2 linked regions of the Homo sapiens genome follow. The protein of the gene in region 2 interacts with the protein of the main gene of each other region in a pairwise test. Each region holds a gene or a part of one and is shown on either strand. Other genes may lie near its edges.

Region 1 (7,037 bases), on a different chromosome or scaffold from region 2:
GCCTGGAGGCCCTTTGGGGGCTAGCAAGAAAGGAGATGAGGCTGGCATGAGCTGGGGACCCTGCCAACAGCTGTGGTTTCAAGAGTGGGGTAGCAAGGAGGTGGCGGGGCGGGTAAGGGTACGGGCAGTGGTGCAGAAGGGAAGAAGGTTGTTACGCAAGGAGAAATAAAAAGGAACTTGAAAATAAAAAGGAGGGAGGAGGAAAGCAAGCTAAGGGTACTGTTAGTGCTCCTGGCACTCCGTCGTGGGGCCAGCGTTGCCTTGAGACCCTCCACCCTCCCTCAGCCTCAGGAGAATTAGGTTCCAGTCCCTCTAGGAAGGACAGGGCTGCCAGTGACACCCAGGAGGAACAGGCAGTGCGCAGGAACCCTGGGGCGGCCCCAGGGTTGGGGGAGGGAAGGTTGGCTGGCTAGAGGGCATTGTGCCAGGAGCAGGATGGGGGGCCAAGCTGGGCAGTGTCCAGGGTCAGGGCGAGGGTGGAAGACCCTCGGGGTCAAGCACAGCAGAGATCGCTGGGGCAGTTCACTAGGGGTGACTGAAGGTGGGAAAGGAGGGGTGGGCTCGATGGGGAGGAGAACCAGGGGCACGGAAGCAAGAAACTGGCTGAGTTCTGGGGTTAAGGCTGGGCCGGGTGTGTTGGAATAAGGCCTGCACTACTCCCTGTGCTGAAATTGGCAAGCAGGACTTCCTGTTTCCCGAGAAAAGCTCTTACATAAGGCTCTGGACGAAGAGACAAAGCAGCGGCCTCAAGCCCCCCGGCCACTGCGGGATTCCTCCCCAGCACACAGGGTTCCGGGTTCCCGTGTGCCTGCTGACTCTCAGCCCCTCCTCCAGGCTGGCTCCTGCCCGCCCCACCTCCCAGCCAGGGCCTGTGCCAGCACCTGCTGAATGTCCGAGGCCACCAAGAGGAAGGGCCCCTGCTCCTCCCAGCCAGGAAGGGATTTCCCCGCAGGAGGAAGTCTGCCTCCTAGGCCAAGGAGGCCGCTTCTGCTGTACCTTGGGCGGAGGATTGATTTTTTTCCTGGGCAGTGTGCCTTCCTACCTCTGCTCCCACCTGGGGGCTGGAGGCATGGAGGTCCCCGCCCCCAAGCCTGAACATCATCCCGGAGTTCCAGCTGTGCCGCTCCGCAACGCCCCCCTTCACGTGGCCCCCAGCTACCCTGAGAGTGTCCCCTGAGCCCCAATAAAGAGAGAGACTATGACTTATTCTATTTAATATCCATTTATCAACATTTTGTCACAATAATAATAAAAATAATATCTGTTTTAAAAATCCACAGGGAATTCTCAAGGGAGGAGCTTGTCTTGTTTCTCGCCCCTCACATTTGGGAACTCCTGGCCTAGGCCCAGTCTCTTTGGCTTCCTGCCGCCAGGTCCAGCCCCTCTTAGTGCCTGAAGTGGGGTCTTCTGGACCCATCCTTGCCCACAGAGTACAGTGAACACAATGCCCTGGGGGTCTGTGGCCAGGGGGGAGTCGAGATCACTGGGGGCCTCAAAGGGTCAGGGATTGGGGAGCTAGTGAGGTGGAGAGTGGGCGGTGGGGGAGTTGTAAGATAAGAGTGGGAATACTGTATTTATGTGGGATGGAAAACACGTGAACAGGCCCAGGCAGCCTCTAGAGGGAGGGGCAGGTCTGGAGCAAAGAGCGGCTGAGGGTGGGGCAGAGGGGACCGGGTGCCCAGAGAGCTGTCGAGGGGAGCCGGCAGCCTGGGACGACTGCGGGGAGACCAGGGCCCCTCAGTGAACCTGGAAGAGTCCGAAGTAGGTGAGGAAGGGGGCAGCCTTGAGATGGGCCCAGGGGAGGGTGCGGATCCGCAGGGAGGACCCTGGCCGCAGGGCCAACAGCCCAGACACCTGGCAGAGGCGGAGCTGGGGCCCGAGGGAACTCGCCGCAGTGGCTGAGAATTCCTCCAGGCAGCGCAGGGCCAGCACACCATCCACCAGCAAGTCCAGCTTCAGGTAGACAGCCTTCCCCTCATCAAAGTGCACCTGGGGTGGGGACAACAGGCCGAGTCCAGGCCTCTGCCTGCCCTCGCCTCAATTTCCAATTTCCTCAGCGACGCAGGCATCCCATCCCACCCAAACCCCAACTCACCCTCCCAGCCCTGTAGCTTGTCCCCCACTCTCCTGGCAAACCCTTCGCCACTCTCTTACTGCGTTACCCATGCAGCCAGATGGGGCTTACCTGACAGTACAGGTAGTAGAGCCCAGCCCGGGTGACTATAAACTCCCCGATCTGGCGGTTGTAGCGCAGAGGGCTGGAGCTGTTGATTCTGGCTTCCTCCCAGCCACTCACTGTCCCGTCCACACCTGAACACGGATGCTCAGAGATAAGGAAACGTCTCTCTACAGGACTCCCCCACACTCCCCAGGGATCCATTGAGCATATGAACATTCGGCGCCCACTTTACCCAGAAGACACATAGATCACCCCGGGCAAGGGAGGACCCATCCCCTATGATGCCCATAGTTGACTAGGAAGTTATGTGAAAAAATCTAATGTATATGGCCAGAGACATTCAGGGCAGATTGTCACCTGCAGTCACTTCTGGGGAGAAGAGTAGAACTGAAGGAGAAGCGTGAGGGGATTTAATGTTTTACTTCATGGATATCTATATTATTTGCTTCTTTTATATGGAGGATGTAAACATACATTATCTGAATTAGTACAACTAAAAATAATAAAATGAAACCCAATTGTCCATCAACAAAATGTCTATCCATATAATGGAATATTATTTGGCCATAAAAAGAGTGAAGTACTGATACACACTATGGCACAGATGTGCCTTGAAAACATCATGCTCAGCCAGGTGCAGTGGCTCACGCCTGTCATCCCGGCATTTTGAGAGGCCAAGGTGGGCGGATCACCTGAGGTCGGGAGTTCGAGACCAGCCTGGCCAACAAGGTGAAACCCCGTCTCTACTAAAAATACAAAAACTAGCAGGGCATGGTGGCAGGCACCTGTAATCCTAGCTACATGGGAGGCTGAGGCAGGAGAATTACTTGAACCTGGGATGGGGAGGTTGCAGTGAACCAAGATCATGCCACTGCACTCCAGCCTGGGCAACAGAGCTAGACTCTGTCTCCAAAAAAAAAAAAAAACAAAAAAAACGCTCACTGGGCATTTTTATTTCCACCAATGGGTTCCCACAACCTGTGCTCTGCAGAGTCTCCAGCCCTGAAGTTTCCTTCCCTTCCTTACCCTGCCAACTGCACCATCTGAACAGCAATAGCCCCTCAAACTCATCTCAACCAACACTGAGCTGACCCCCCTCATCCCACTCTTGCTTTACTGTCTGTTTTCCACATTTGGCTTCTGGTTTTGCCACCAGGGGGATATTCAAGCCTCCCTCTCCTTTACCTACATCATTAATCGATCACCAGTTCCTATCTATCCTGCCTCCTAAATAGCTCTCTCCCCTCTCTCCCCCATCTGGTGCCTCTGTCTGGTTTTCACAGCATTCCCTGTTTCCATTCTGGCTTCCTCCAGTTTATTCCCTACACAAAGCCACAGAATGAGTCTCTAAGATGCAGACGTAAGCCCGCCTCGCCTCGCCTTCCTCCTTCCGATGGCTCACCTCAGAATAGTTCCCACATGCCACCGTGTGGCCTGGCTTCTGTCTCCAGCCTCATCCCCATCTCGCTCCTCTAGCACTTTCTGCTTCTGCCACGCTGAACTTAGAGTCCCCCAGCCTCATCATGCTCTGGGCAAACCCGGGGCTTTTGCCCCAGGGGCTGCTTCTGCTTGCACCCACCATTCTTGACCCCTTGCCTGTCTTGTCTTACGCTCCTGCTTCAAGGCCCAGCGGCACCTTGCGATGCAGGGAGAGAATCCCTGACTCCACAGCCATGTCTGTCTTCCCCTGTGTTGCCAGGTATCTTGGCCACTTTTATTATTGTTCTTGTCATATTCCACTGTAATTACAAATTTTTTTTTGAGATGGAGTCTCACTCTTGTCACCCAGGCTGGAGTGCAGTGGCACAATCTCGGCTCACTGCAGCCTCCGCCTCCCGGGTTCAAGTGATTCTCATGCTTCAGCCTCCTGAGTAGCTGGGATTACAGGCATGTGCCACCAAACCTGGCTAATTTTTTTTGTATGTTCCTGTAATTACAAATTTATATGCTTGTTTCCTCTCCTAGACAGTGACTCCTTAAGAGTTGGTCTGAGGCTGGGCACAGTGGCTCACGCCTGTAATCCCAGCACCTTGGGAGGCCAAGGTGGGTGGATCACGAGGTCAGGAGATCGAGACGCTCCTGGCTAACACGGTGAAACCCCGTCTCTACTAAAACATAAAAAAAAAATTAGCCAGGCGTGGTGGCAGGCGCCTGTAGTCCCAGCTACTCGGGAGACTGAGGCAGGAGAATCACTTGAACCCGAGAAGGCTGCAGTGAGCCGAGATGGCGCCACTGCACTCCAGCTGGGGCAACAAGAGCAAAACTCCATCTCAAAAAAAAAAATGGGTCTGACCGGCTGGGCGCGGTGGCTCACGCCTGTAATCCCAGCACTTTGGGAGGCCGAGTTGGGTGGATCACGAGGTCAGGAGATCGAGACCATCCTGGCTAACACGGTGAAACCCCGTCTCTACTAAAAAATAAAAAAAAATTAGCCAGGCGTGGTGGCGGGCGCCTGTAGTCCCAGCTACTTGGGAGGCTGAGGCAGGAGAATGGCATGAACCCAGGAGGCGGAGCTTGCAGTAAGCCGAGATCGCGCCACTACACTCCAGCCTGGGCGACAGAGTGAGACTCCATCTCAAAAAAAAAAAAAAAAAAAAAAAAGAGTCTGGATATTAGTTGCTGTGGGCACCTAGCCTGGCCCCTAGCAAACAGTAGGTCTTCAATGCCTGTTGAGTCAATGAATGAATGAATGTCTGGATAATTGCCAAAATAAGTGGTCTATACAGAGGGGAGGAAGGCTGATCTGGGCATGAAGAGTAGGGAGGGCAGAGAAGAGAGGGCATTCCTAGCTACGAAGCCAGCCTAAGCAAAGGCTGCTTGTAGCCTAAGGGCATGGTGTGCCCAGGAGCACGGAGGGCTTGCCTGGTATATCACTTGTCTCCAGCCACAAACCTCACCTGGACATTCCGTCCTGCCTGGCAATCTTACATTCCCCCACGAAGCTTGCTTTCATAATCAGCAAGTTGAGATTTTGTACCATTTCTCCTCAAATCTCCTGTCTCCATCTCCCTAGTTGTCCAGAGGACCTAGAAGTCATCGAGCAAAGGTTCCCTCATCTCCCCCCAGCAAATCTACAAACCCACCTGGTCTCTTGTTCTCCTTTGACCCTCTGGTAATGGTGGGAGATGTGTCCTCTCTTCTTTCTGGAAACTTCCCTCTCCCCTTTTTGGATGTGGCCCCTGCATGGACCCCTCACCCCTGCACCAGCCACCTCGCCTTTCATGCAGACCATGTCCAGTACACAGGCACATTCTAGCTGGGTTCAAATCTTGGCTCCACCACTTAGTATCTCATGGCCTCAGACAAGTTGTGTAACCTCCATCTGTAAAATGGAGGTAATTAGAGTATCTTCCTTTTAGGGCTGTTGTGAGGATTAGATAAGACCAAACACAAGTGCCAGACACAGTGCCTATCTCAAGAAAGCCCTCAGTACATGTTAGATCAGATGAAAATAGTATTGTTCACAGAACTAAACTTTTCCTTGGTCCACACACCCCTCCACCTACTGGCCTATTTCTCTGCTCCTTGTTACAGAGAAACTTCTAAAAAGGGTTGTCCTAGGCCGGGTGCAGTGGCTCATGCTTGTAATCCCAGCACTTTGGGAGGCCGAAGCGGGTGGAACACCTGAGGTCGGGAGTTTGAGACCAGCCTGACCAACATGGAGAAACCCTGTCTCTACTAAAAATACAAAATTAGCCAGGCGTGGTGGCGCATGCCTGTAATCTCAGCTACTGGGGAGGCTGAGGCAGGAGAATTGCTTGAACCCGGGAGGTGGAGGTTACGGTCAGCCGAGATCGTGCCATTGCACTGGATCCAGCCTGGGTGACAAGAGTGAAACTCTGTCACAAAAAAAAAAAAAAAAAAAAAAAAAAAAAAAAAAAAAAAGGTTGTCCCTGCCTCCAGTTCCTTATTTCTCATTTTCTTCTCAACCCAATGCACACTGCCTTCCTGTTCTAACTATGCCACTGAAACCACCCTCTTTAAGGTCAGCAGGACTTTCACGTTACCAAACCCAGCCATCATTTCTCTGTTCTCATTTCATGTGATCTCTCAGCTGCATTCAACACAGACAGCCACATCCTCCTTGAAACAGTGGTTTCTCCGAATCCAGGATGCCACCCTCCCTGGGTTTCTTCCTCTCTCTCCAGCTTCTTTTCAGTCTCTGCTGGTTTTCCCCTCAGCTCCACTTCAAGATGCCCAAGAGTCTCAGGGCTTCATTCGTGGGGCCCTTCTTTCTCCTGGCGTCTCACCCAATCCTGTGGCTTTAAATGCCATCGATAGGCCGGGCACAAGGGCTCACACCTGTAATCCCAGCACTTTGGGAGGCTGAGGCTGGCGGATCACCTGAGATCAGGAGTTCAAGACCAGCCTGGCCAACACGGTGAAACCCTGTCTCTACTAAAAAATACAAAAATGAGCTGGGTGTGGTGGCACCCGCCTATAATCTCAGCTACTTGGGAGGCTGAGACAGGAGAATCGCTTGGACCCAGGAGGCAGATGTTGCAGTGAGCCAAGATCGAACCACTGCACTCCAGCCTGGGTGACAGAGCGAGACTCTGTCTCAAAAAAAAAAAAAAAAAAGCCATCCATATGGCCATGACTCCTGGCTTTATCCGTCCTGACCTAGCCTAAGCTAGTCGACAATGTCCAGCCATCCATTTCTGGAATTTACTTTATTGTCATTTATCCGCTTGTTTATTTTAGACTTCTCAACGTTAATAATTATCTTACATACTTCCCAACCTATTTATTCCTTGGTCAATCCCTTCTTAGGAAATGGCATCATTCTTCCCAGAGATACCCAAGTTAAAAATCTAGAAGCTGGCTGGGTGCAGTGGCTCATGCCTGTAATCCCAGC
Region 2 (7,037 bases):
CATGCTGTGCGTCCTTTTGTGTCTGGCCTCTCTCCCTGAGTGTGATGTCTTCACGGTGCATCTGCGCTGGGGCCTGGGTCAGAGCCTCACCCATCCACATTCCACCGTGTAGATGGGCCATGCTGTGCTGACCATTTAGCGTGGACAGGCATTTAAGCTGTTTTTGCTTCTTTTTATTGTTTTATTTTTTATTTTTTATTTTTTTTTGAGACGGAGTTTCACTCTTATCGCCCAGGCTGGAGTGCAGTGGCGCGATCTGGACTCACTGCAACCTCCGCCTCCCAGGTTCAAGCAACTCTCCTGCCTCAGCCTCCTGAGTAGTTGGGATTACAGGTGCCCACCACTGCACCTGGCTAATTTTTTTGCATTTTTAGTAGAGACGGGGTTTCACCATGTTGGCCCAGGCTAGGCTTGAACTCCTGACCTCAGGCAATCTGCCCGCCTCGGCCTCCCAAAGAGCTGGGACTGCAGGTGTGAGCCACCGCGCCCGGCCTCTTCTTGCTTTTTGACTCTTGTGAATACAGCTGCTGTGAACATGTGTCTGGGTTTTGGTGGACATGTGTCTCTCTTGGGCACATATCTAGTATCAGGGTGGAACCGGCGGGTCTCATGGAAGCTGTGCAACTTTTGGGGGCCACCAGCCAGTCTTCCACAGGGGCCGCTCCCGACAACCCCACCAGCCGTGCTGTGCCTGAAGGTCAAGTTTCTCTGCACCTCGCCAGTCCCCTCGCCAGTCCCCCTTCCGTCCCCGTCCCCACAAGCCAGCGTGCTGGTCATCAGGGCAATTCCCTCAGCTCCCTGGGCCCCAGGGACCAGCTGGCCTCTGCGAGGGTCCCACAGCCCCGGAGTCCAGGTAGGGCGAGGTGTCTGTGGGGATGGAGGTCCTCCCTTACCTTCGGTTTTGAGGCGCTCTGCCTCTGCTGAGTCCTCCTCGGAAGGCGGGGTTCGCGCGGGGCTCCTCAGGTCCTGCGGCATCTCCTGGACCCGGAGGCAAAGGCGGCCCGCTGTCCTCTCCTCCCAACCTGGCACCCTCCGGCCTTAGCTTCCCTCGGGACGCCAGAGAGGGCCACCAAGTTCCGAAGGACCCGGGGGCTCTGCAGGGGACTCCTGGCCCCCCATCATGTGGCCCTGGGCGAGTGACCACAGCGCTATGTGTCTCAGGACCCGCCGATAGGGGGAGGAGGGCCAAGTGCTCCTGCAGCCACGTCCCCAGCCCAGGAGAGGATGCAGGCAGAGTGCTGGGGGACGATGAGAGCGGGGCTCCTGGGGTCCCCAGGGCTGCCTGCTGTTGCTGTTCTTATTTTGGGGGCAGTGGCTGGGGAAGCATCGAGGCTCACCTTGCCCGTGGCAGCCGCTTCAAATATCTCCGGCAGAGTCTGAGGGAGCGCAAGGTCACTGTCTTCTACCGTCACCCCAAACGCAGTCTCCAGGCACTGGATGGCGACTGAAGCGGGGACAGAGGCGGTCCCATTCATTGCACGCAGCCCCGAGGTTACGTTTTTGGGTCTAGAGGGCGGGGTTGGTGCTCATGCTTCCCCAGGTGTGTTCATTCCCAAGGACCCCAGAACGCAGGGGCCGCCGCCTGTGCTCTGGGCTGGGACAGTGGACCCTCTTCCTTCCCGAAAAGAAAAGCCAGACAGAGACGCCCCGTGCCCCTGAGAGCAGCAGAGGCCGTGGGCAGAGTGGAGCCCAGGTGGTGACCTCAGGCCTCTGTGGGGTCCCAATGCTGGGGCTGCCCGGCTGCGGCGTGGTGGGGGCTTGGCCCCACCTGGAGGGCCACGTCAGGGGTGAGGTGCCCCGGATGCTGTTGCACCTCCAAGGGCGCCTGGCCTGAGTAAGGAGCTTGAAGCCAGCCCCCAGTAGAAGGCCTGTATGACTGGGTCTGTACCAGGGCAGGACCATTGAGAGCAGGACAAGAAACAGCCACAGGGCCCCTCTCTCTGCTGGCCCACCTGACAGACTCAGCACCCAGGGGGCCCTCCCACCGAGCCAGACAACACTAGCCCTGGCCGCCTCCTCGTGTGGACCCAGGGTCCTAACCCAGGTCAGAAGTGGGGGTCAGCCACTTCCTGCCCAGCACTGTGTCAAGGACCCCGGGCACATCCCTACAGCTGTCACTGGGTGTCCATGCTACAGAGGCCTGGCAGGCCCAGGACACAGGTGAGCGAGGCATAGGTGGGGAAGGAGGACCTAGAGCAGAACCTGCAGCCACACGAGGGTGCCTCCCCGAGCCCTCCTTTCCCTCCGAGCCCCGGATCCAGGTGTCGCAGAAGCGCAAGCAAGACCAGCCAGGAGACCAAGGCACCTGGGGAGCGGACAGGCCATGCAGGATGCCAACGAGTCTGGGACTCTGGGGCGGGGCCAGCACTAGGAGAGCTTTTTCCCCGTGACCGATGGTGACACACACACACTGGGTGGTGAGAACATTCCAGAACACACCTTGGTGGAAGATGGGGAGATGGAAAAAAGCCACTGGAAGGCAGCTCAGCCTGAAGGCATCAAGCAGTGGTGGCGCCACGCAGTGGCAGGCGGGAGGGCTCAGCTCGGCCCTGGCTCCCACGGCCGGGGGCTGTGTGGCCCTGGGCAGACCCCTGCCCTCTCTGGGCTTAGCTTCCACCCCCAAAAAGCCAGGCGGGGGACCAGGCATCTACACACCAGGTGTCTACACGAGGCGACTGTGCTGGCCGCTGCCCGGGGAGAGGGGGAAGTGGCAGGCACCCACCTACCTTCCAAGCTCTCCTGAGCATCGGACGAGAGGCCCCCGTGCCGGAGCTGGTCATGCAGGAACTGGATGATGGCGTAGGCCAGGCGCTTCTTGTTGTCCATCTTGAGCCCAGAAGAGGTGATACCTGGGGGTGCAGGAAAAACCCCCATCAGGCCCCCTCACACTCCCCACTCCAGGCACCCCAGGCCTGCCCCTAACTAGCTGGGCCTCACTTTAAGGGTGCTGGCTGATCTCAGCTCCAGGACAGCCCAGGTAGAAAGGCCTTAATACGCCCATTTCACAGATGATGACCTGAGGCCCAGAGCTCACCAATCCGGCTATGCACACAGCCAGAAAGTGTGAGGCCAGCAGGCAAGCAGGGCCTGCCCTAGAGAACCCGCGTGCTCCCAGGGCCTCCTGAGCACTCCCAGGGTGGTACTGAGGCGCCACGGAGGTCCCCTCCGCCCCTGCTTCTGGCATGAGGTGGGTGGGGGCCAGGGATGCTGCCCAGCACCCTGCAGTGCCCAGGACAGCTCCACTCCAGAGAACGATCCAGCCCCAATGTCCACAGTGCTGAGAGGGAGAGACCTTGTCCTCAGCCAGAGCCACTGCCCCTTTCCTCAATTTACCTCTTTTGTGGCATGTCAGCAAGCATTTCTTAGGTACCCAACGGGGCCAGGTGTGCCTGCCCTGGTATCACTGTTTCACAGGACTTGCAGAGGACTCCCCCCAGGGACTTCTTGGGGACCCGTCTTGTTCCCCCTGGGAGGCCTACCTACCTCATTCCACCTCAGACCCCCCTCTAGTTCCCCCTCGGACACCCTCCTGTGCCCCCCTCGGACACCCGCCTGGTTCCCCCACCTGACACCCTCCTGGTTCCCCCAGCGGACACCCTCCTGGTTCCCCCAGCGGACACCAGCCTGGTTCCCCCACCGGACACCCTCCTGGTTCCCCCAGCGGACACCAGCCTGGTTCCCCCACCGGACACCCGCCTGGTTCCCCCCTCGGACACCCGCCTAGTTCCCCCCTCGGACACCCGCCTGGTTCCCCCCTCGGACACCCGCCTGTGCCCCCCTCGGACACCCGCCTGTGCCCCCCTCGGACACCCGCCTGGTTCCCCCCCGGATACCCTCCTGGATGCCCCCTCGGACACCCTCCTGGTTCCCTCTCAGAAACCCTCCTGGTTCCCCCTCGGACATCCGCCTGGTCCCCCCTCGGATACCCTGTCTTGTTCCTCATTCCCAGGACTTGACAGCTGCTTCTGCTCATGTCTGTGGTCCCTGCAGTTTCCTGCCAAAGCTCTAAAGGGTGCCAGATGGTGACATCAGGAGAGGCTGTTCTGGAATCTGGAGCTGTAGTCTATGGACAGGTCTTTTTTTAGTACAAGACCTTTCACACAGGTTTCCTGGGTGCCTGGGCCAACTTGGAGGGGCCTCGGCCACAGTGACCTTCACGGCTCTGAGCAGGAAGCCCCGACGTGAGCTTCCCCCGGGGCAGGCTGGCCGGCTGCCTTGAGGCGCCAGCTCAGGAAGGCTTGGCCTCACTGTGCCTCCATTTCCCCCGAAGGCTGGCGATGGTGACTCTAAACATTCAGATGTAACAAGCTGCGTGGAGAAGCAGCCGCCCCCGCCCCCGCCGCTGGAGCAGCCAAGTTCTGGGCTAGTCACGTCCACCTGGGACCTGAGCACGGGACCTTGTCTGTGTCTTTGCAGATGGAAACAAGTGGAGATGAGGTCGCTGTGGTGGCCCTAATGCAGGGATTGAACATGGCCGCACGGAGACGGCCGCGTGAAGACGGAGGCAGAGGCTGAGGCCATGTGGCCACACGAAGAGAGGTGAGGCTCGCTGGCCCCCAGCAGCTGGAAGAGGCAGGACGGAGCCTCCCTTGGGGCCTTCAGAGGGAACGTGGCCCAGCCTGCACCTTCATCTCAGACTTCTGGCCTCCAGAACTGCGAGGGAAATCAATCTTGGTTGTTTTAAGCCAGCCGGGTTGTGAGGGAGAGGCCAGGCGGTTCCCGGATCGTGGCCTGCAAAGCCTGTGAGCTCGGACGGGTTGTTCGGCCTGAGCCTCCGCCTCCATGTCTGTAAAATGGGGAGCTCCATTGTGGCTGCTGTCAGGGGTCGGGGAAAAAATAACCCGGAAGCTGTCAGCCCAGCGCTTGGCGCCCTGCGATATCTGTTGTTAATATCACGATTCTGCCAGGCGTGGTGGCTCACGCCTGTAATCCCAGCACTTTGGGAGGCCGAGGCAGGCAGATCACGAGGTCAGGAGACAGAGACCATCCTGGCCAAACACGGTGAAACCCCATCTCTACTAAAAATACAAAAATTAGCTGGCATGGTGGCACGTGCCTGTAATCCCAGCTACTCGGGAGGCTGAGGCAGGAGAATCACTTGAACCAGGGAGTTGGAGGTTGCAGTGAGCTGAGATCACACCACTGCACTCCAGCCTGGCAACAGAGTGAGACTCCATGTCAAAAAAAAAAAATCATGATTCCTCGTGGTGAGTCTCGTGGCATAGACCTCGGTTGGCTGTTTTTGGCAGTGTGACCTAGGGGAAGCGACTTAACTCTGCTGAGCCTCAGTTTCCTCTTCTGTCCCCCATGGATGGCGACAGCACCTCCCCATCGGGGGGGGGGGGAGGGGTACGAGACCAGGCGTGCACAACGCTGAGTGAACACCCCCACACAGGCAGGTACGTGGACGGGTGCTGGTGCACCCTCCGTGTCCAGATCAACACATGCTGAGGCTATTCCAGAAACGCTGCCCGGCTGTGCAGTTTCACTGGGAGCATTTGGAGAACCTGCTCTGAGGCCAGAAGCAGGCATGGAGAGGGGTTGCTGTGGTGCTGGCGCATGGAGGGGCAGCCCTTGGGGAGGCCCTGGCCGTGGGATGGGACCCCCATCCTCTGTTCTTGCGATGAGGTTCCCTTGGCTGGGCCTCCCTTCTCCACCTGCTCCTTCCGGGCTGGGCTGGGCAGCCGCCTTCCCTGGAATCCACTCCCTGTCCAGGGCCTCTGGTGTCTCTGAGCAGCTGGGTCTTCCCCATCTCTGTCCCTCACTGGCTGACATACAGGGTGGCGGGGCTGTGTGTCACCGGCCTTCCTCCGGGGCCGGGCCCAGCCCGTGCATAGTGGACCTTATTCTTAGTTGCACTCTGTGTGCCAAGACGCATGAGGCAAGGGGCAGGCCTGAGGCCTCAGGAGCTGGGGAACCACCGTGAGGAGAAGCACAGGTTTGAGATCAGACGCTCGGATTCAGGCTGGGTCAGACAGGGCCTGGCCAAGAGGCCGCCAGCCTCGGGATGGACGAGGAAGGGCGAGGCCTGAAGGAATCTTCTACAGTGACAGCTGCCTCTGGATAATTTCTTATTCTTCTCTGCTCTGTGCCCAGATCTGCTCTCCAAGAAGTGACTAAAGCCACAAACACCTACAAGGAAACTCTGACCCAGCACCCAGGAGGCCACGGCTCCTCCTTCTGAGCCAGCACAGTGCAAGGGGTCTCTGCCGCCAGGTCCCACTCCCCAGCTGGGCCCCAGGGACCCTCTGCGCGCAGCCACGCTGACAGGCGGCTCCAGGGGCTGAATACTGTCGTGTGCTGAACTGTGTCCCCCAAATCCATACACTGAAGTCCTAACTGCCAGGACCTTGGAATGCGACCTCACCTGGAAATAAGATCTTGGCGGACAGAATTTGGTAAGATGACATCATACCAGTGTACGGCGGGTCCCTAGAGCAATAACCAATGTCCTTATAAAAAGGGGACATTTGGATGCAGACGCATGCACAGGGAGAACACTGTGTGGATGTGAAGGCAGAAATGGGTGACGCGGCCACACGGCAGGGACACCGAGGGCAGAGATGGGTGACGCGGCCACAGGGCAGGGACACCGAGGGCAGAGGTGGGTGACGCGGCCACAGGGCAGGGACACCGAGGGCAGAAATGGGTGACGCGGCCACAGGGCAGGGACACCGAGGGCAGAGGTGGGTGACGCGGCCACACGGCAGGGACACCGAGGGCAGAGGTGGGTGACGCAGCCACACGGCAGGGACTCCGAGGGCAGAGGTGGGTGACGCGGCCACACGGCAGGGACACCGAGGGCAGAGATGGGTGACGCGGCCACACGGCAGGGACACCGAGGGCAGAGGTGGGTGACGCGGCCACACGGCAGGGACACCGAGGGCAGAGGTGGGTGACGCGGCCACACGGCAGGGACTCCGAGGGCAGAGGTGGGTGACGCGGCCACACGGCAGGGACACCGAGGGCAGAGATGGGTGACGCGGCCACACGGCAGGGACACCGAGGGCAGAGATGGGTGACGCGGCCACAGGGCA

The links. The genes of interacting proteins can lie anywhere in the genome.
Region 1: the proteins of SGTA (region 2) and TNFSF12-TNFSF13 interact in binary tests that used the Homo sapiens proteins (3 or more experiments, as listed by UniProt).

What each region holds. Positions count from the first base shown.
Region 1 is NC_000017.11:7,552,051-7,559,087, reverse strand, and holds part of TNFSF12-TNFSF13 (TNFSF12-TNFSF13 protein), read right to left. Parts: intron 5,502-7,037; exon of another isoform or gene 5,263-5,501; intron 2,311-5,262; coding exon 2,186-2,310; intron 1,990-2,185; coding exon of another isoform or gene 1,738-1,989; exon of another isoform or gene 1,207-1,737; intron 807-1,206; exon of another isoform or gene 713-806; intron 339-712; exon of another isoform or gene 49-338; coding exon of another isoform or gene 1-48. Other genes in the region: TNFSF13 (tumor necrosis factor ligand superfamily member 13 isoform alpha precursor), read right to left, coding at 1-48; TNFSF12 (tumor necrosis factor ligand superfamily member 12 proprotein), read right to left, coding at 1,738-1,989, 2,186-2,310. UniProt on the Homo sapiens protein: Binds to FN14 and possibly also to TNRFSF12/APO3. Weak inducer of apoptosis in some cell types. Mediates NF-kappa-B activation. Promotes angiogenesis and the proliferation of endothelial cells. Also involved in induction of inflammatory cytokines.
Region 2 is NC_000019.10:2,766,243-2,773,279, forward strand, and holds part of SGTA (small glutamine-rich tetratricopeptide repeat-containing protein alpha), read right to left. Parts: intron 2,850-7,037; 5' UTR 2,827-2,849; coding exon 2,727-2,826; intron 1,445-2,726; coding exon 1,338-1,444; intron 979-1,337; coding exon 894-978; intron 1-893. UniProt on the Homo sapiens protein: Co-chaperone that binds misfolded and hydrophobic patches-containing client proteins in the cytosol. Mediates their targeting to the endoplasmic reticulum but also regulates their sorting to the proteasome when targeting fails.